Regions from separate parts of the Homo sapiens genome. Here region 2 is linked to region 1. The links come from fine-mapping of genetic effects on plasma protein levels. A gene starts in region 1. The other region holds a variant in brackets. All regions are shown on one strand. Distances are between the middles of the regions.

Region 1 (10,456 bases):
GTCTCAGAGCCTATGTTCTGTAGCACAGAAAGTCCCTTTATAGGAACATTGTCTACACCTCGTATGGCCGAGAGCAATTCCCATCCCTAGTCTCCTTGTCAACCAGCTTTTGAATTGGCAGGACTTGGGAGGCAGATTATAAAGAAAGGATCCTCTAAGGAGAAAAGACTTTCATATACATGCATTTTCTCCTTCTAGTGCTCTTCACCACTAATAATAAACACTTACCCAATACCAGTGTGGACTGGGCTCTTGAAGCACTCTCCAGTTATGAACACCTACTCTACATAGCAACCTCATGACAGAGTTACTATTCCTAATTTTAAACTGAGGGAACTGAAGTAAAGATAGTCTAAGTACTTTCCCAAGAATAAACTTTACTGTTTACTTGGAATTCCACATGTCTGAGTCTCTAACTTTCCTCCTTCTCTTTTTATTCTCCTACTTTCTTTTCCTAATTTCTTCCTCCTTCTTTCCTTATCTTTTAACAAGCCTTGACAGTAAAACAAGATTTTTTAGTCCTTATGGGGGCAGGGAGTCAAGGGTAGCAAATGTGAGACATTAAATATAGCCTGGGTACATTATTTAGTGACAGCTCTAGACAACAACGAAGATGAGCAGGAGGTAAGGAAGCCACGTGGCATCAAATTAATCAATCTCTGAACTTAAGAGTTAATGACAGTACCTCAAACCTTAGAAGAGAAAATCAGGTCAGCACTGAGGACCTCATGTTTTGCTTAATTATTTAAGAAAGAAAAAACTGAATTTTTAAAGCTTATTTAGCAACACGACTGGCACTTCCATACATGAAAAGAAATTATGAGGAAAAAAAAGTGAATTCACTGTTATCATGGTTTTAATCTTTCCAGATGTGAATGGTTTTCCAGAGTCAGTATGGAGTAGTGGTTAGAAGTAAAACCTTTGCAACCATTCTGCCTGGGATTCAGTCCTTCCAGCACATTCCAACCCACTCACCTTATGCAAGTAAATTAAACTTTTGGGGATCCCTGATTTAAGAAAAAAAAGGTTAATAATGACCCTATATCACAGGGTTGTGATGAGAATGAAATTAATGTTAATTAGTAAATTTATAGAAAGAGCTCATATAATGTACTATTGTTGTATTATACAATAATATATAGTAGGTTCAAAATATGAATTTCTAGCTGTAATCTGGTACTATTATATCAGATTCTTCTAATTTGTTCAAAATTTTTATTTTTATATACATTGAGTTTCTATATTATCTTATTGTTCTAATTAATCATTATTTATCTTTATAACTTAATTTCTATTGAAGTCCTAATTGTCTCATTTATCTACTAAAGGAATTTTAATTCTAGTTTTTTTATAGTGTGCTAAAGCATATAATAATTATCATAATCATAAATAAGGTATTTAGGTGATATCAAAACTAAATTGCTGAGATTCATTCATAATGATGACAGGACTCAACACTTACACACTAAAGTACCTCAGTTTTAAATAAAGAGCAAAAGGCTTAGTTCCAGAGAAAGAAATCAGTGAAGTGGAGGATTTGATGTCGTTAGTATTACTATCATTGTTTCTATTATAATTATTTTAGTTTTGCTTTGGTTTGATGTCTGCCAGAAGCCAAGCAGTGGACGTGTGGCTCCATTTCAGCACCAGGACACTTGAACAGCACCATTGTGAGTCTTCTAACCACTCTGTGGCTCCTAGTTAAATTTATGCTTACCCTCTGGCACTTTTCACAGAGGGTCCTTTCAGTCAAAACCAGACAAATTATAGAAAAACAGAAAGCAAGGTAATAAGAACATGTCCTGAATCAATGTATAATAGTCTCAGTGATGCTTTTTCCTGGAATGGAAAGTAAATTACATACTGAAAACATGAAATGCAGTATTAAGGTACTGAAGATAGGCAGGTAAATAAATTTCTTCATCTTTAAATACAATTATAATCCAAGAAACATTGATCATAAGAAAACTCTAACATTGGATAGCTATCCATTTTTAATGCATTTGAGTCAGATAATTAGATTAAAATATTTTTGATAGATTACCTAGTTGGAATCCTGAAGTCTACATTATTTCCCAACTTGTAAGCCACCTGCAATGTAGCTGATCCCACTACTCTCTGGATAGCTCTTCTAGATGCTGCTTTATCTACCTGGAACTGAGAGATCAGATCAAACCCTATAGAATGGGAATACAAAATGAAAAGTCTAAAATGAGATTGGTTTTATTTCTTTCCACAACTTTCCCAAATAAAAAAAAAAATCAGGTTTATAGAAAGCATGCATTTTCAATAGGGTACATTGCTACTCACCTGGTAAGTCATCTTGGCCAATCCTGATCTTTGGACAGAGTTCATTTCCACCATTAGAATTGGAATTGACAGGGAATCCTGCAAAAGAGATAGCATGTCATTCTACTTCATCCACTCTAACTTAAAGTATAATAATAATAAAATAAAATAAAATAATAATAATAATAATAAAATTTAGAACCAGAAAATAGCAATTGACCACAAAAAAAAGATTTCAGGATGTATCAATAATAATAAATATTTAAAATTCAATATTATACCAGCTTGCTTAGAGGTAAAGTGTTTGGCTTTACCTCCATGCCTCTACGATTATAATCTGTCCACCTGCAACTCATCCTGGAAGGGGTGGATGCAAGGCACAAAGTTGCTCTAATAATCTGGCTGGGAAAATGTTCGTTTTGAAGAGGTTAGGCATTTGTTCCTTTTGAAACCAAAGCTGAATGGTGTCCTGAATGGCACAGGGTCAGAAATCTGTTTGGAAAATTCCTGGTGGTTTGGGCTAGAAAATGTTCCTTAAACACCACAAATTTTAGGATTCCAGTGAGATTCCAGAGCCAACCTTGGTCCAGTTCAGTGGGGCTTCTGGAGAGTAGAGTTCTTAGGAATCTTTGTCAGATATAGGGGCCTGGGGAAGTCTTGAGATTCACTAATCCTAAATAAAATATAGAGGATGGATTTGATTTCATAAATTCGTTCTAAGAGATCAAATAAAAGTCCCGACTAGATTAATCCTAACATCTTAGAACTGGGAAGAGTAAAAAGAAGAAGAAAATAATCATGAGAAGGATTAAATCCTCAATTTGATAAGAAATCATAGAATGGAATTGTGTTCTCCTTACACAAATGGAAGGTCAAAGGGAAGAGAGATTTTTCACCACCACAGAAGGCTTCTTGGAAATATCCAACCTCAGTGCCTTGCTAAGATTCATCTGACAACAGAGACTCTCTAGACTTCAAAAAAAGTATTATTCAGTTACAAAGCATAGGCCCGGCGCTGTGGCTCACGCCTGTAATCCCAGCACTTTGGGAGGCTGAGGCAGGTAGATCACCTGAGGTCAGGTGTTCAAGACCAGCCTGACCAACATGGTGAAAGCCCGTCTCTACTAAAAATATAAAAAATTAGCCAGGCATGCTGGCACATGCCTGTAGTCCCAGCTACTTCGGAGGCTGAGGCAGAAGAATCACTTGAACCTGGGAGGCGGAGGTTGCAGTGAGCCGAGATTGTGTCATTGCATTCCAGCCTAGGTGACAGAGTGAGACTTCATCTCAAAAAAATAAAAATATAAATATAAAAAAGCATGGGCCTAACCATAATGGTACATCAAACATGCTCTTTATACTCTCCTCACCCCAAATTGTTGAGGTCCATCCATCCATCAGTCTATTTATTCATTCATCCATGTATTCACCCAACATTTACCAATCACCATCTGTACTAGGCACTGCACTAGGCACTGCAGCTCACAGATTGGCCTTCCTACCAACTGTGATTACTGACAGGACTTACTTTCCATACCCAGCATTGACCATGGAAAACCAGAACCTAATGTATCCCTGTGCCCCAAAGCTGGATTGAAGAGTGAGGGTGTGAAGGACTATGAATGCCTCACTCAGTCTTCAGTCAGCCACAGCCCTGCCTGATCATTTCTGGGAATAAGTGATCTTTGAAAGTCTAGAAACTATGGCCCTTACTGGGGCGACGCTTGACAGCTGCAGATGCCCAGGGTTCCAGGAAACTGCACACAAAGAAGAAAACTGGAATTTTCCTGAAGAAGAGAGAAGAAAAATGACTGAAACAGGAGTCCCCGCAGATGGAAAACACTTCCATATTTTCAAACCTAGTAAACCTAATTAATGTAAGGTGATCAAATCACAGTATAGTTTTTTTTTCATTTCTTTTTTTTTTTTTTTTTTTTTTTGAGACGGAGTCTCGCTCTGTCACCCAGGCTGGAGTGCAATGGCGCGATCTCGGCTCTTTGCAACCTCCACCTCCTGGGTTCAAACGATTCTCCTGCCTCAGCCTCCTGAGTAACTGGGATTACAGGCACGTGCCACCACACCCAGTTACTTTTTCTATTTTTAGTGGAGACAGGGTTTCACCATGGTGGTCAGTCTGGTCTTGAACTCCTGACCTCGTGATTCGCCCGCCTCGGCCTCCCAAAGTGCTGGGATTACAAGCATAAGCCACCGCACCCAGCCTTCATTTTTACTTTGAAACCCTACTGAGAGATGTAAGGAACTCATGTTTCCAGACCCCACTGTCGTTGTTGTTTTATTGATCTCACCTTCTCGGTATCTACCTATCTCACTGTTTTGGTACCTATTTCTTTGTCTCTGGTTTCTTTCACCTTTGATTTCCTTCCTCTCTTTTTCTGTGGCCGTCACTTTCTCTCCCTTCCTCTGTCTGTCTTCGGTTTTTTGTGTCTGTCTTCGGTTTCTCACGCTTGCCCTCTTGTCTTACTCTCTCATCCGTCTCTCTTTCTGTCTCTCACCTTGAGGCTCACCTACTCTCATCTTACCACTGCTGCAAAAATACAGACCCTTGGTTCTGAGGACCCCCAGCTCCATCTCCCCACCACTCTTTCCAGGGTTATTGTCTTACCAGCAGGTCTTCATTTTCCCAGTTGATTTTCTTTGTTTGCCAACAGTCCCTATGAAGAAGGGGTTGGAAGGGAGTCACTGTCCCCTCACGACCCCTTCACTGTTACCCTAGGACTATGTGTTCTGGGCCCAGCCTTGGTCCCTCCTGCCCCCGGTGAGGGCTAAAAGCAAAGGGAGAGAACCAGAGGCATCTCGTGACACTTTAAACTGAAGCAAAGGAAAGGGGTGGGGAGAAGCAGCGCTCTGAGCCCAGGCCTAGGGGTGTGTCCTCAAAGCTAACAAGGTTATACTGAAGGAGGGATTTACAGGGGAAAGTTTGCTGAAAAGAAAAAAATAAAATCAGGATGTGGGGAAATTCACCAGAAAGATCCAGGCAAGGTGCTATAGGAACACAGTAGATGCTTTTAGATCTGCTATAGGAGTACAATGGCAGCTTTCAGAACTGCTATAGGAATACAGTGGAAGCTTTCAGAGGGCTGAGGTTCCAGTAAAAATGTGCCCACTGGGAGGCAGAGGTGTGGAAACTCGTGGGAGCCTTGGTGCCCGATCAACCTAAGTTTCAATCCCTGTTTATTCTGAAGCTTACTAGCTGTGTGTCCTTGAGAGAGTTACTTCACCTTTCTGTAACTAGATGCCCTAACTGTAAAACAGATTGAAAATGCTTACATTAAAACAATGGTTTTGAGAATTAAATGAGGTATCAAAGGCAGAGGGTCTAACACCCAACAATCATTATTTGTCATCGTCTTCATAGCTAACGCTTCATTATGCACCTCCGTCTGTTGAAAATGCTCAAAGCTTAATGCCATTTAATTCTCACAACAACATTATAAGGTAAGACTGAAGTTACCCTTATTCTCCAAATAAGAAAGTTGAGGAAGCAGAAAATGAAGTAACTTTTTCAAAGTGCCATGCCTATTACTAAATACACATTCCCTCTCTCTACCTCATGGATAGAAATCCTGATAAAATGTAACATCAAGCCCCCTACTTGTTGTTTATTCTTAAACTCTGAGACTACCAGAGTTGAGCAGAGGACACTGTATCTGGAAAGAAGCAACATATTATCCTCCGTTAACAAGGTGAGAGCAAATTACAAGGAGCACAAACCTAGAGAGAGGCATGTTATCAGCATCGCTACCACACATGCCATGCCGTCTCTCCAGAACCTGAGCACCTAAAGAGAATTCCCTATAGCCCCCACATCACCCCCGTTACCACCCACTCAGCATGGCCAACCTCTGGCCTTGTCTTGAGGGACACGGGTGGTTACTCCAAAAACCAAGACTCTAAAGGTCAGAAGATCCAATGATCTCAAAAATCACAGTACAAGCAAAGTAATTTTTAGGTGAACTTTTTTTTTTTAAGAGACAGGGTCTCAGGTCTCGCTCTGTCCCCCAAGCTGGAGTACAGTGGCATAATCATAGCTCACTACAGCCTTGAACTTCTGGGCTCAGGGGATTCTCCCACCTCAGCCTCCTGAGTAACTGGGATGATAGTCATGCACCACTGCACCTGGCTTCTTGAAATTTTTAAATTTCGTTTTCTAATTGATTTAATTTTTATTTAATTACAAAACAATAGCGTTGCTTCTTATTTTTCATTTGTTTATTTCTTTTCCAAAAAAGTCCTTTCAGTTTCTGCCTCCCCCAGCTCACTGATGAAATGTAAATCAGGCAAACTTAATATCCATGCTTTTGCCCTTTTATTTTCTACTCATAGCCCACCTGTTGGAGTCCTGTCTCTCTTTCCCAGAGGGACACCCATTTCCTCATGCTGTTTGGGGCTTTCTACAAGTCCCTGTCATTTGCCTTCTGTCTATCAAAATTCCCATTCCCTAGTGCAGCCATCCTGGCTCTGTGACAGAACTACAAATGACCAGATCTTAGCTTATTTGTTTAAGTCAGTCAGGGCTCATGAGAAAGAAGCGGTCTATTAACCTCAGAGGAGAAACTGCAGCTGGGGACCTTCCTGACATCCTGAAGTCACAGGAGGTAAGCCAGCCAGAGATTCACAGGGGAAAAGGCATTTTCCAAAGGGACTGTCCATTGAAGCTATTTATTTGCATGATTGATCCTCTCATATTACTTACTCTGGTAAGAAAGGAGAGAGGGATTTTTCATTATAATGAAGTGTTTGGGAAATCCTTTCATTGCTTTAGAGATCTCAATTCCGCATTTGCCCCTCTCCTTCCCACTGTAATGAATCCTCTTCAAGTAGAATTTGAAATCAAGTGAGGGTGCCTTTTAATTAAAAATGAAAGGATAGAGAGAAAAATAGGTTTGCTTATAGGTGGTGTGGCTTTTTTCTAGCTTGGCAGTTTTATTTAAGATGGTAGGAGCAAGCAAGAGCTATTTTAAGAAAGAAAGTAGGCTGGGCACAGTGGCTCACGCCTGTAATCCCAGCACTTTGGGAGGCCAAGGTGGGTAGATCACCTGAGGTCAGGAGTTCGAGACCAGCCTGGCCAACATGGTGAAACCCCATCTCTACTAAAATACAAAAATTAGCCAGGCCTGGTGGCACGCGCCTGTAGTCCCAGCTACTCGGGAGGCTGAGGCAGGAGAATCGTTTGAACCCAGGAGGCGGAAGTTGCAGTGAGCCGAGATCACACCACCGCACTCCAGCCTGGGTGACAGAGTGAGACTCCATCTCAAAAATAATAATACTAATAAAAAGAAAGAAAGTAAATCCAGGCCAGGCAGGGTGGCTCATGCCTGTAGTCCCAGCACTTTGGGAGGACAAAGGCAGGCGGATGACTTGCACTCAGGAATTGGAGACAAGCCTGGGCATCATGGTGAAACCCCATCTCTACAAAAAATACAAAAATTAGCCGGGCACAGTGATGCACACCTCCAGTCCCAGCTACTCAGGAGGCTGAGGCAGGAGGATCTCTTGGGCCTAAGGAGCTTGAGGCTGTAGTGAGCAGTGATTGCACTACTGCACTCCAGCCTAGGCAAGACAGTGAGGCCCTATGTCAAAAAAAAAAGAAAAGAAAAAACAAAAAACAAAAAAGAAAGTCGATCCAGAGAGAACAAAGATATATACAATATTATTTAAGGAAATTTTTTTTCCTCCCTCCACTCCCATTTTCTATTAATCTTGTTTCCTAACGCGACATTAGAATCTCACAGACAGCAGTGCAAATGCCACACTATTCTGGTCTGGGTCAGTTGCACCCTAAGGTCATAGACGCATAAGCTTTTTCACCCTTAGCATTATTTCCTCACCTTACCTAACAGTTTGGTTCTGAAAAACCATGTAGAAATGAAATGTGGTCAATCATATCAGATTATAAATGAACTAAGACAGCTTAATATTTAAAATGATCCATTTTATAAATAGAAGTGTTTTGTATAGAACAGTTATACTTTTCTTTGTACCTCCTCTCATCCCTCCCCCACATACTTTTTCACAGAATGCACACACACTAATCTCCTTCTTCTTATAAATCAAGAATATTATTTACTTAAAGCTTAAATCGGGGAACATCATCACAAATAATCATCTTTCTTGATCATCTGCTTTCTTCCCTTTGTTTATTCAATCATGTATTGAGTAACTATATACAGTAGTATATGTATCAAGTATGTGCTGGGAGGTGAGGAAGCAAAAAGTGTGAATAAACACAGCCTTGCCCTGAGGAAGCTGACAATCCAGCATGGAGGACCAATATGAAAGCGACCACAATTCAGAGAATAAGAAGGCTGTAGTGTCACTGAGAACAAGTATTAGCATAATCCAAGGGCATCGGGAAATTTTTAATACAAGAGATGAAATCGTGAAGGATACTAAGGCTACTAAGAGAATAAGTGGGTGCAGTATGTTTTAGACAGAGAAAACAGAAGATACTATAACAAAAAGGTAAAAGAGGACATTTGGGAAGCAAAGAATCCTTTCATTTGGTAAATATCTATTGATGCCTCTTCTACCATGCTCCCTGAGTGACCTTAACACCAGAGAGACAACCAGAGAAAGATCAGGTCCCTGCCCCTATGCAGCTTACACACTGGTGGGAAGAGAGGTACTAAACACATTTACAAGAATAGACAAAATAATTTCAGGTGGAAACATTATGAAAAATATAAAAGAAGACAATGTGTCATAGAGTCTGTAGAAGGTTTAGAAGCTGGTCTAGGTTGAGGGGTTAGGGAAGGCTGCTTTGAAGTCGTTAATTTTGACTCAGACCAGATGAGAATAAAGAGATAAGATTGGTGGGTAGATTGGAAAAGGGGTGGGGGACAGGAAAACTACCTGGTTTTGAGCTTGAGCAACTGAGTAGATGGTGATGTCACTTTCTGAAATCACAAGTAGGAGGACCACGGGGGAGGAGTTGGGTAAAGGATCTTGAATGACATCAAAAGAAAGCATAGACATTATTCTGGCTGTTATAGGAACTGAGAGAAGAGTTTGAGGCCAATAATGACTTTTTTGGATGTGTCTTTAGAAAGACAGTTCTGGTGTTGCTTGGAGGATGGATTGAATGGGCTTTATTACTACGTATACAGATACACAACCAGAACAAAAGTTTCAGAAAGCAATAGTTACTCATATAAATGTATTAAATTACTTTATAATCAGTGAAAGGTCAGTAAAATGTAGAATTATAAGTGCCTAGTGACTTAATAGGAGGAAATATGGAAGGTTAAGGAAGGAAGTAGGAACCTGGAATAAGAAAGCTAAGTTTCATTTATAGCTCCGATGAGTGACTTTCTTTGTTTTCACCATTGGGAATCTTAAATGAGGAAAGTGTCGTATCCCTTCCAGTTATCTTTATGTTAATAAACTAAGTGAAGATTGGACAGAACTAACAAAGGAATTAGTCTCCAATGGTGGACTTCCAGAGTTTTGAGATTAAACTTTGAGAGGTGAGAAGCCTTCCTGATGCCCCTGTAATCTTAAATTGGCAGGTGTCTCTAAGTGAGGCCATCCCTCTTTGCCTGCCTATCATTTTAATCTTTATACTGTAACTGGTTCCTTTCAACTCTGGCCTTTTATTGTAGCACTTTTATCAAGTCTGCAGCTTCCCAGCTACTTGGGAGGCTGAGGTGGGAAGAACACTTGAACCTAGGAGTTCAAGACCACTCTGGGCAACATAGTGAGTCCCTGTTTTTAGAAAAATAAATAACCTTTAGCTTTTTGCTATAGAAAATATCCAAATAGAGTCTGGACAATGCTGGATGTAAAGAAAACTGTGAAGCTACCTCTAAGCATATTGTTTGTAAATACTGTGTACCATTTAGAGGATAACATGGGGGATTCACATGAAGTTATGTGAAAATATTTTATAAGGAATAATACCTAAGTGCCTCTCTTACAGTTCTCCAGTAGAATGTATTTTCAATTTTTGCCACAAGGGGGAGAAGTTATTTTTATAGTAATATGTACATTTTTTTATTTTAAAAATAGAATTCACACAACTTTACAGCATCTATGAACATTTTGCTATCCTAATTATGTGTGTGTGTGCATGTGTGTAAACAAGATTCTGAAAGTCTTGCATGAGAAAAATTTCAAAGGAAATTAATAACAAAACCAAAACAGTTTT
Region 2 (10,456 bases), 28 kb before region 1:
TTTTGGAAATTTGGGACAATGACTCAATTAATAGGAACTTCCATTTTGGATTCTTAGATTTTTTTCAACCCTGACTCTCAGACACAAACAGAAATTCAAGCTGCAAATAACTTACTCTGGGTCCTGGGGGGCCAGGGGGGCCAGGTGGTCCTCTTCTCCCAGGGTCACCCTAAGTTATTTGAAAATTGCGACACAGTGGTTATACATGTGTCAAAACACAGTACATAAAACCAGTGAGGCATAAGAGAATGGTATTACTGGAAACCCCCACCGAGCTCAGCCATGCATAGACCTGCCACCAAAATCGATGGGTGGCCCGTAATCCAATTAGTTCTACAAAATGAGAGTAATAAAGGCATTCCAGTCTCACCGAGGTAATAAAACAAGTCAGAGAGAAGCTAGGGGAAAAAGCAAAGCCAATTCTTCTCTATCAGACAAACATTTTATCTACTCTGAAAGCAAATTGGAAACACTACTTATTTTTCTGGTTGATTTACAGAGGACCTAGAGCAACCTATACTGCTAGTGCCATTCTGCTAACCAGTGCAAAAGAAGGTTTGCACTCAGTCTGAAACTGTGGAATGGAAGGTTAATCTCTGCAGTGCCTGACTCTTGCAAGTGCTGTTCACCCACAATCTATCACTTGGTCTGTCACTGCACCTCTTGCAATGAGTCAGAAAATCAAAGAAAGCTACATCGAAGTAAACCGTTCAGATGAAAATGGGTTCCAATTACTCTTAACATCCAATGTTTACTCTTGGCACATTTTCCTTCTTGATGTTCTGCCATAAAGAGTCGGAAGCACCTCCCAATTATTTTAACTTTACAATCATTTCATATTCATTCACTTGTTCACTAAATAAATTTGCAAACAGTAAGCACATGTAGAGGAACAAACAAGGTATATGATACATGGCTCCTTCCCACAGTGAGTTTACAATTACGCGCCTTCACATAACATCACTATGTCAACGTTTTTGAAATGTTTACTTAATATCAATATGAAGCATTTTATATGAGACATTTTTTATGAAGCCCAGCTCTTTAATGTTAAAAGTTAAATTTTGTTGGCTGAATTATAATTTAATGATCCTAACATAAATACACATGGTAATAATTTTAGGCTATTCACTTTTATTTCATGCAGGGAGCCTAATACAAAAGCCACTAGACTCCAGTCCTGGCTGAGAGTCTGTAAAATGAGGACGACACTCTCTTACTTGACAATCTGGAAGTTGGGAAGAAAAGTTTAGCTGAAAAATTTAGGAAAAAATTAAAATCACTCTGCAAAAATTATTATTATTCCTGGTTCACATCAATATTATAAACTGGAATGAAATTCATCTGCCATGTTTTGGTTTGCAAGTGGAAATGTACAGTTAGGGTAATTTGCTTTCCCAAATAACATCTTCTATTAAATCAGCAAACGTCTATCAAAGTGCACTGTGGTACTCACAACAGGTCCTACACGGCCAAGCTCTCCAGGGAGTCCTGCTGTCCCAGGAGGACCCTGAAGTCAACAAATCAAAGCAAATGGTCATTTATGAATATTTTTACAATCTATCATACATTATATCAAATATGATAAATATTAGATTTACATTTCTGTATTAGCTTTGGTTTCCAATGACACAATAACTCATTTGACCAAACTTTAATTACTTAAGATACAGCAGAAATTTCCTAAATTAATAAATATTTTGTTTAGCAGAATAAGGGTGTTATCCTTAGTAGCCACCTAAGATCTTGCAGGTAGAACACTGTAAACACCACTGAGTAGACCGTTAGTAGGAGAATAAGGTGGGGATTTGAGAAATAGGACATTTTTATAGACTGCATAAAAATAAATGATGAAGTGATACTTACAGGGGGTCCAGGAATACCACGGCCCTAAAAGAGTACAATAAAAATGGTTATAGCTTGAGGTTTATACTTAGTATAAATATGAATGTAGACATAACTCAGCTAAAATAAACCATAAACTCTATTACTAAAAATGATGCTCATTCTAAAGAAAGCACTGAATAAAGAAAAGCAAACACGGCTCTGCTTCTACAGGAAGCAGAAGCTTATTTCAGCTCCTCTAACATTCCTTTGCTGTCTATGCTAACTGGGATTTTTCCAAACTTTTTTTTTTTAAGGAAATCAAAGTAAAGAAGCCTTCCATGCTTGCCCTCAGGAGAACTTACCATAACTCACAAAGAGGTGCATCACAACTGGAGAGTTTACAGATTTTATTCATTTGTAGCATTTTATAGGAAACCTACATTAAAAGCATTCTAGTTTTACAATCTATAATAAATTATGTTTAGAAGTTCCCCAAACATTCAGCACAGAGAGGCAGGGACAAAAAAGGGTCAGAAACACACCTCCCTTTTGAAAGGTTGGGCTATATTTTCAGACACTGAATCCAGTAGATATTGAAAATAAAATGGTGTCACTCCTGAAGTAACCTACAATGGGACGCTAATTTAATATGTTATATTTGATTTTTAAGATAGTCATTCTATTTTCTTCTTTACATTTATATCTCGTTAGCAACACCAAACTTTACATAATCAAGGATTGAACCACATCTTATTCATCTTCCTAGCCCCAACTCCTAGCACGGGGCCTAGCATATAACAAAACCTAATAATATGCTCGTTGAAATTAAAACTGAATATCAGCTGCCTAGATCTCTATTCTCTCTCTTTAATTTCCAAGTTCAATTTTTTCCCCTTGGGATTTCTCATTATTCTTTTCTCTCCTACATTGGTTAGAATGGTTTTTATTCACAGCTGTCTGTGATATGATATTCATGATAGCTTTTCACTCCAGACTGGCTTTTCTAAAATATGAATATACCAAGCATCCCATGGAATCAATGCACTGATAATGATATTATTATTTCTAATTAGTTGGACAGGAAAAACAAGCAAGAACTTCACATGGACAGTATGTTTTAATAATCAGTGGGATTTTAAAAGGCATTCCTGGAAAAAGGACTCCAGTTTGAACACTTTAATACATAGGTCAATTCAGGAAGTAAGTGTTGTGTTTGAAAACACCAAAGTAATCAATAAGTTCTTTCATTGTCAGAAACCTAGATGTTCAACAAATTTCACTAAACAAAAAGGCATCTCTATAAATTGTTGAGATTAAGAGTTGAGTTGAAAAATATGGGAGAAAGGCCAGCAAGCTGTTCACTTCTGAAAATAGGCTTATAATGGAAAAGTTGACATGCTGAAATATGGCAAAGAAAATAGCACAAATAGGAAAAAAGAAGAAAAAATACAGATTAATGACAAGAGTAAAAGTGGAACAAAGAGCAAAATAGATAGGAAAAGCAGCCTAAGAACCTGGTCCTCATATATACAAATAACACACACCTGCCATATTGTGCAAATGCAGAAAAAGACTAGCCAAGGAATCAGGCAAGTGATAATATCTGATTAGTCGATATTTCATTAGAGATAAAACCAGTTGTGAAGAATGTGGTGTGACACCATGGTCTAAACATTGAATACTTAGATATGCTGTTGTTATGCAAGAAGTGTTTTCTATCATGGCAGGTAAAGAGGGAATTGTCTGCTGGGAAATACCACCTGCAAATAGAATATATATTTTCTACTGTACATTCAAACTTCTCTAAAATTTTTCCACTCATAGTAGAAATGCTTACCATACCAGATGTCATCAACTTATTTCTCATGTATATTATGCAGAAAACTGCACATGTACCCTAAAACTTAAAGTATAATAATAAATAAATAAATAAATAAATAAATAAATAAAAAGATTTCACAATGGCAGAATTTTACCTAAAGATAGGAAATTTTCAATTCTGTAGCTTTACATTTACTTACTGGAAATCCACGCGATCCAGGCACACCAGGTTCTCCCTAAAAATAAAAATAGTTTCATTGTACTGACCTTTCATATCATGAATATGTAAATGTGAAAACTGCATAAATATTGAAAGCATTAAAACACCCCATTATGGTGTTTTTTTTTTTTAAATTTCCAACTTTTATTTTAAGTTCAGGGGTACATGTGCAGGATGTGCAGGTTTGTTACATAGGTAAACATGTTCCATGGTAGTTTGCTGCACAGATCATCCCATCACCCAGCTATTAAGCCTGGCATCCACTAGCTATTCTTCCTGATGCTCTCCCTCCTCCCACCCCCTATTTTCTGACAGGCCCCTGTGTGTGTTGTTCCCCTTCATGTGTCCATGTGTTCTTTTTATTCAGCTCCCACTTATAAGTGAGAACATGCAGTATTTGGTTTTCTGTTCCTGCGTTAGTTTGCTGAAAATAATGGCTTCCAGCTCCATCCACGTCCCTGCAAAGGACATGATCTTGTTCCTTTTTATGGCTGCATAGTATTCCACATCATGGTGTTTTTAAACACAATTTTAGTTGAACGAGTGCATTTTAGATACTTCATAACTTAATGTTAGTTGGCTTGCAAACACTGCAATAAAATTATACTTCAGCATTTTCGTACTAGCAATTAATGCCAGATGGCTAACTTACTTTTTGTCCCTTTGACCCAATGGAGCCAGGGGATCCATCAGGTCCTGTTAATCCCTAATAGAGCAAGACAATGATGTTAGAACTATCATAACATCCTTAGGCAAACCACTAAGTAGAAAACTTTCATTTTATTTATTAATTGTCTACAGGATGGTTACATAAGTATGATGCAAATATTTATAAAGAAATACCTTACTATAGTCTTACTCAAAAGTAAAGATTAACAGAAGATCTGCCTGTTGTGATTATTTCTTCTTGATAAGTTGTATCATACTCCTAACTTCCTGCTAACTGCATTGTTTATCACAGGGTTCAATAATTCAGTGTTTTTTGTCTCTGCTTTGGAAAAAAATGCAACATAGCAATTACAATGTTGTAATAGCTAAGACTGGTGGGTCTTGGTTCTGCCATTTACTCAGGTTTATTTACCTCCTTTACTTCATTTATGAAACAAAAATACTATGTATCTCTCTACAGGACAATAATCTCTTTCTACATGACAACAATGTCTTGGAAGTCAATAAAATATTTCCTCAATAAGAATTAAACACAAACAATCTCATTATTGCCTTATAGCCACTAACAGCCCCCTAGCCATCTTCTAGCAATGACAATTGCTTATCAAAGAATATTAATTCTTAAAGTAGAAACATTTGAAAGCATGCATGTTTCTACATTATTTTTCTTAGTAAAAATAGCTGTGATTAAGTATATATGTTCATGTATGCCACTCGGTATGTAAAATTTAAGCCTATTATTATAAACCACATTTATAATTATCATATTTAATACTAAAGCAGTTATTAAATACATATTCTAAACATTCTCATTTTCCCTACTACTACTTACTTTATCATCATCCTCAATATAAAACACGTATTAAAGAATGATAATATCACATATATACAAGAATTTCCATATTTGGTAAAGATACATTTCTATTTTTAATTTTTTTCTTTGCTCTTTGACACTTTCAGATGCTGTCATTTACAATGTAATCTTGAAAGTATACCTTCCTAAAGATAAATATGATATATATGTGTGTACATATACATACATGCCTATATAAGTATCTTATAAACCCTTTCTATTATCAAGATTTTGAAGAAGACCCAAACAATATTGACAGAGGGATCTCTTGAAAAATATGAAAGCCCTACTTAAAAATGGATCACCAAAATTCATATTTAGTCTGTCATGGTCTGAATAAACATCCATAAAATTCCTTCACATAATTCATATAGAAAACTAGTTCAGTGGCCACCATTTTTACATTTCTCTACCTTAATTAATTTTCCTAACAATGTCACAGAGTGAATCAAATAGAAAAAAATGAGTTGAAATGTTAATTACTGGAAATTTACCAAAGAAGAAAAATATTAAACACACACAAAAGAACTTTTGACAGACTGCCTTTGATTTTCAATAGCCCTAGTCTAATTACAACACCGTAATTTGGGAACAAACCTCAACATGATTAGTTGCTAAGCACCTATGGTAATGAAATGTTTGCTTTGGCATTTCACAAACAAACTATACATCCAGGAGCACTCTCTGGATGCACATATGGCATGTAAATTTTATAAACCTCTGGGCATATTTAACTAACTGATCCTCTAATTCTCACTTAATGCATAAACCCTCCAAGACCAATTCTGTTCAATTTTCATACACACAGTCAACTAACACTCTTCAACCTGTGACTGGAATAACTGACAAGATTGGAGGACAGTAACTATAAAGCAGAACCAAGTAAATAGTTGGATAACCTGGAAGCTGTTTTTCGGTTACTTCATATTAAAAATATCCTCCATAAGACATGCTAAATTATGTCAATCACTGGAAAGTTCTTTGAACTAAGTTGAAAATGGATTCTGGTGTCAGATGTTACAGTAACACCTGTTATGAAATAACTATGCAGAAAACCGTAAGCTCCATGAGGACAAGAGTCATATGTCCATTACAGTCCTAACATGTTGTCCTGGCATCTAACCACTCAAGATGTGATTACTGCCTACAATAAGTTTAAGGAGGCCTTCCAGGTGGCAGGATATTACACTTGTTCCTCCACAACATCTTTATATTCAGCTCAAATCCTGATCCTACTACTTAGCAGCTGTGGAATCATGGGCAAGGTCCCTAACTGCACAGTGTTCTAGACGCTGTTCCTCATTGAGAAAAGGTCCTACAAACAAACAAACCAAATCTAGGTATTAACCACAGCACTGTATTTCTTATCCTCATCACATTTCTTCAATGCCTGAATATTTGCACCTACACTGATCTTTTAGAATAATTTCTTAATAACTCACAATTCTAGTTATAAAGCATCTGCCACAGATAATAGTTGTATACATTCAGAAAATACATAGCACCTAACCTCTGCCTGTAAAAATTATCACAGTTTAGCTATAATTCTTATACTTTATTCTAATTCCTCTTCTGCTTATCTCATATGGGTGTTATAAGAAAGAATAAAATACTGTTTTTAAAGGTCTCTCTGAGCATGTCACAACAAATAGTACATATAAAAATATCTCTATTAATATAATTGCTGAGAACAGCACAGTTGTCCTAAGGTTAGGACCAAGTTCTGTCTTATCTAATTTTACATGTCCATAAGCCAAAAAAAAAAAATCAACTTAACCTGAAAAAAGGGCAGATTTGAGTTGAAATATACAGACCACACACATAATACATACATAATTTTCAAAATCCAGTTTGCAGTAAGACCTCCTAATTCTTATTTCAAAGAAATAAAAGAAGAAAACATTACCAGAGCAGAAAAAAGTGCCTTCATATGAATATTCATACAGACAAACTTCTATACATTATAACATTGAAGCTGACTGTGTTCTGAACTTCATGTTACTGTTTGGCAGAGAAAACCAGTCCTCAATGGAGATTTCCTTCCAGTATTCTGACAGCTCAGCTGGTAGGACTCAAGGCTTACTTCTACAAGCATGACTGCTATGACTCATTTACATTTTCTGCCAAAAATCCATTCAACATAGGATAATGAACACTGAACAGGGTTCCTTTCTGATTCTTTCAACCATCATCCAATTAACCATTTTTTAACATTATCAAAAAATAAGCCTTGTAATGACCCAAAGAGCAGAAGACGAAATGATTCGAGGTTTAAGGTCCTACCAGCACACTCAGGTTCACCTACCAAGAAAGGACTGTTGAAGCTCTCCTACTTACTTAGCTCCCCTATGGCCAAGGACAAACAAACAGCAAATTCTGACCCAGTTACTGCATTTCATTATTCTCAAAGATATCCATTCTCAATTTAGAATAAAAGATTTTTTTAATGTCAAATCAGTCAAAGAGTGGAATAAGAAAACTTTACAGTTCCAGATGCCTCATGTGGCTTAAATTCAAAAGTCAGGGAATATAAAACAAACCAATATTTATAAGTAATTATAAAATATCTATTACAAATGGCTGTTATTATCCATATCATTCTTCTTGATCGGTGACTTAGGTACTAAAAATTCACTATCACTTTTTCTCTCTGTTCTCGCTATTCTCTCTCATCTATTAAGATC[G/A]TCACTTGTATTCGCATGAGGCAGAATTGCCTGGGGAGTCTAAAAATCAAGAAATCTGGACTATTTTGTTATCTTAGCTACTAAATAGCTCTCTGAGGAAACCACTTGTCTTCATAATTATTGTTTCCTTATTTATGGAAAGTAATATTAGACTAATCTACTTTCCAGGTTATTGTTGGTTAAAAGAAATGTTTGTGGCAGTGCTTGAGGAAAAAGTTCTGTGTAAATGCAAATAGTATAGTTGATTTTTCCCCAAGATCTAGAAAATGCCTAAAATACTGGCAGATACAGGGATTTCCTTTTTTCTCCCCTTTCCTCTCTTTCTCTTTTGCTTTCCTCTCCTGTCTCAGCAGACTAAATGTGCTCATCATTTTTTCCTTGAGGTCAAAGTTCAATAATTTAAGGCAGCTTATTCTTTTATGTCTTTTAATATTTGAAATCTGGTTTATGCTGCACTGTGGGTCTGCAAATATAGACAAAGAAAAATTTACTTGAAATTGCTTTCTATGTTGTACTTCTAAAAATTTCAAAGCACTTTCATTTGTTTATCCAAAGTTTCTGTTAGAGTGGGGAAATTACTTTATAAGCAAAACCAAGGATTGTCTTTATGACACCATGGTATAAGGTAAAGAGAAGAATTTGTTGAGTAAGCTACAAAAGCACTATTAAATTGGGGGACAGATAAGTCCAGCTTTCTGTCTGACATTATATTGCAGTTTAATTAATAGCAAGACAAGGATTCAGATGACCCATTTACGCTTCAAATACCAAAATAAATTTTTGAAATACAAAATAAATATTTTATTTACCAAAATAATTTTTTTAATTTAGTCAGAAATTTTCTTTTCATCCAAAACTAAAGGCTGATTGAAATTTCAAAGGAATATAGAAATAAATTCAAGCTACATTAGGCTACCAGTTTGTTCAGTAGCCTTGAATTTGTCAGACTCTTTTTATTATGGTATGACAATTTCGATTAATTATAGATGTTCCAAAGAGTTTGATTGCCAACAAGTTATATTATTTCAGTTCATATTACATTAATACAAACGCTTGTTTGAGATTCAGTTTTTACTATCTAAATATTAGTCCTTAGGTGCCTCCTGTACTGCTAATTTGCATACACAGAAAGTTCAAACTAGGGGCTTTGAAATGTAAACCAAGATCTATTTCCTAAAATACTATGGGTGAAACCCCATCTCTACTAAAAATACAAAACTTAGCAGGGCATGGTGGAGGGCACCTGTAATCCCAGCTACTCGGGAAGCTGGAGGCTGAGGCAGGAGAATCGCTTGAACCCGGGAGGCAGAGGTTGCAGTGAGCCGAGATCGTGCCATTGCACTCCAGCCTGGGCAACAAGAGCGAAACTTCGTCTCAAAAAAAAAAAAAAAAAAAAAACACATACACATACAAAAACGCTAAATAGTATAGACACAGTATAAACAAACACATTCATTATGGGAATCCCGACAAAGAAAGCACACCTTAATAACAGTAAAAATCCAGTTATTTATTTTTCTTTCAAAATGAAGGATATGTCTTAAACTGTAGTCAAAAATTCTTGGAAATCATAATTATAGGTTTTCGAGTGCTTTCTTTCATTTAGAAAAGTCTTTAGTTTTTGGAAAACACATAAAGTGGTAACTTGAAGAGTAACTTGAGTGATGCACCATGGTATGCTAAGAACAGACGCCATTTCTTACTTCACTTCATATTCCAGGGACAAAATCAAGGACTGGTCTGTAGTGGGTCATTATTACATATTGTTAGAATGCATGGAAAGAGGAGAAGCTGAGAATCCTGAAGTCATTTTACTCTGAAGAAGTATTATTTAGTGTTAGGTTTACCATATAAGTCAGCATTTGATGGAGATGTGGGTAAACTGGAGAAAGCCTGCTGGTTCTCAATCTTCATACAGTCCTAGCCAGCTCATTTCTGCCAGTAATGCCAGCCAGAAAAACTCCATGGAAAGACGAAAATCTAGTTTTGAATTTCTAAATTCCCCGCACATCCCCACTCACTTCAAGTGCATCTTTCTTTTTCACATTCCTTGGGATTTAGGAGTGCTCTGGCCCTTTGCCTACCTGCAGGATCTTTTTCTAAATTAATGCAGGGAGTGCCGGTGAAAGAGCAAGGGCGAAGGCTAGCTTCCAGGAGCCTGCCAGTGGGCTCACAGCAGGTAAGCCGAAGCCAGTACAATCTATTGCCATCCGTACCCCCTCTGGCCCCAGTGGGGCTGAGAGTTCACAGCGTGCACTGTGAGGTCACGGTTAGAGACAGGAAGCCAGTACCCGCTGCTGTTTTCTAGGAGGAGGAAATGCCAACGCCTCCTAGAGAGAGGTATCCTCACCTTCACAAGTCCTTTTGCAAAAGCTGCCAGTT

Alleles and levels. Alleles are on the strand shown, and positions count from the first base shown. The strength of an association depends on the size of the effect and on how common the allele is.
In carriers of allele G in region 2, the plasma level of the protein whose gene starts at base 5,086 in region 1 tends to be higher than with A alone (weak association).

The links. A credible set is the group of variants that fine-mapping cannot tell apart. PIP is the posterior inclusion probability: the model's chance that the variant is causal. The UK Biobank Pharma Proteomics Project read protein levels with antibody pairs (Olink). The fine-mapping took linkage between variants from a reference panel, not from the people measured, so its PIPs are less certain.
Region 2: its variant is the best candidate, but not a certain one, in a credible set for the plasma level of the COL9A1 protein (UK Biobank, PIP 0.79).

Annotation. Positions count from the first base shown.
Region 1 is chr6:70,297,999-70,308,454 of GRCh38, forward strand. COL9A1 (collagen type IX alpha 1 chain) reads right to left here and starts at 5,086. Exons shown (of 38, transcript NM_001851.6): 1 at 4,913-5,086; 2 at 4,003-4,076; 3 at 2,311-2,388; 4 at 2,045-2,177. The coding sequence starts at 4,926.
Region 2 is chr6:70,270,199-70,280,654 of GRCh38, forward strand. COL9A1 (collagen type IX alpha 1 chain) reads right to left here. Exons shown (of 38, transcript NM_001851.6): 11 at 4,521-4,574; 12 at 3,849-3,884; 13 at 1,867-1,890; 14 at 1,457-1,510; 15 at 116-169. Among named protein-coding and RNA genes, the nearest start is that of COL9A1, 28 kb to the right of the region's middle. RefSeq lists an enhancer at 126-235. The variant G/A (reference allele first, on the strand shown) is at 8,075.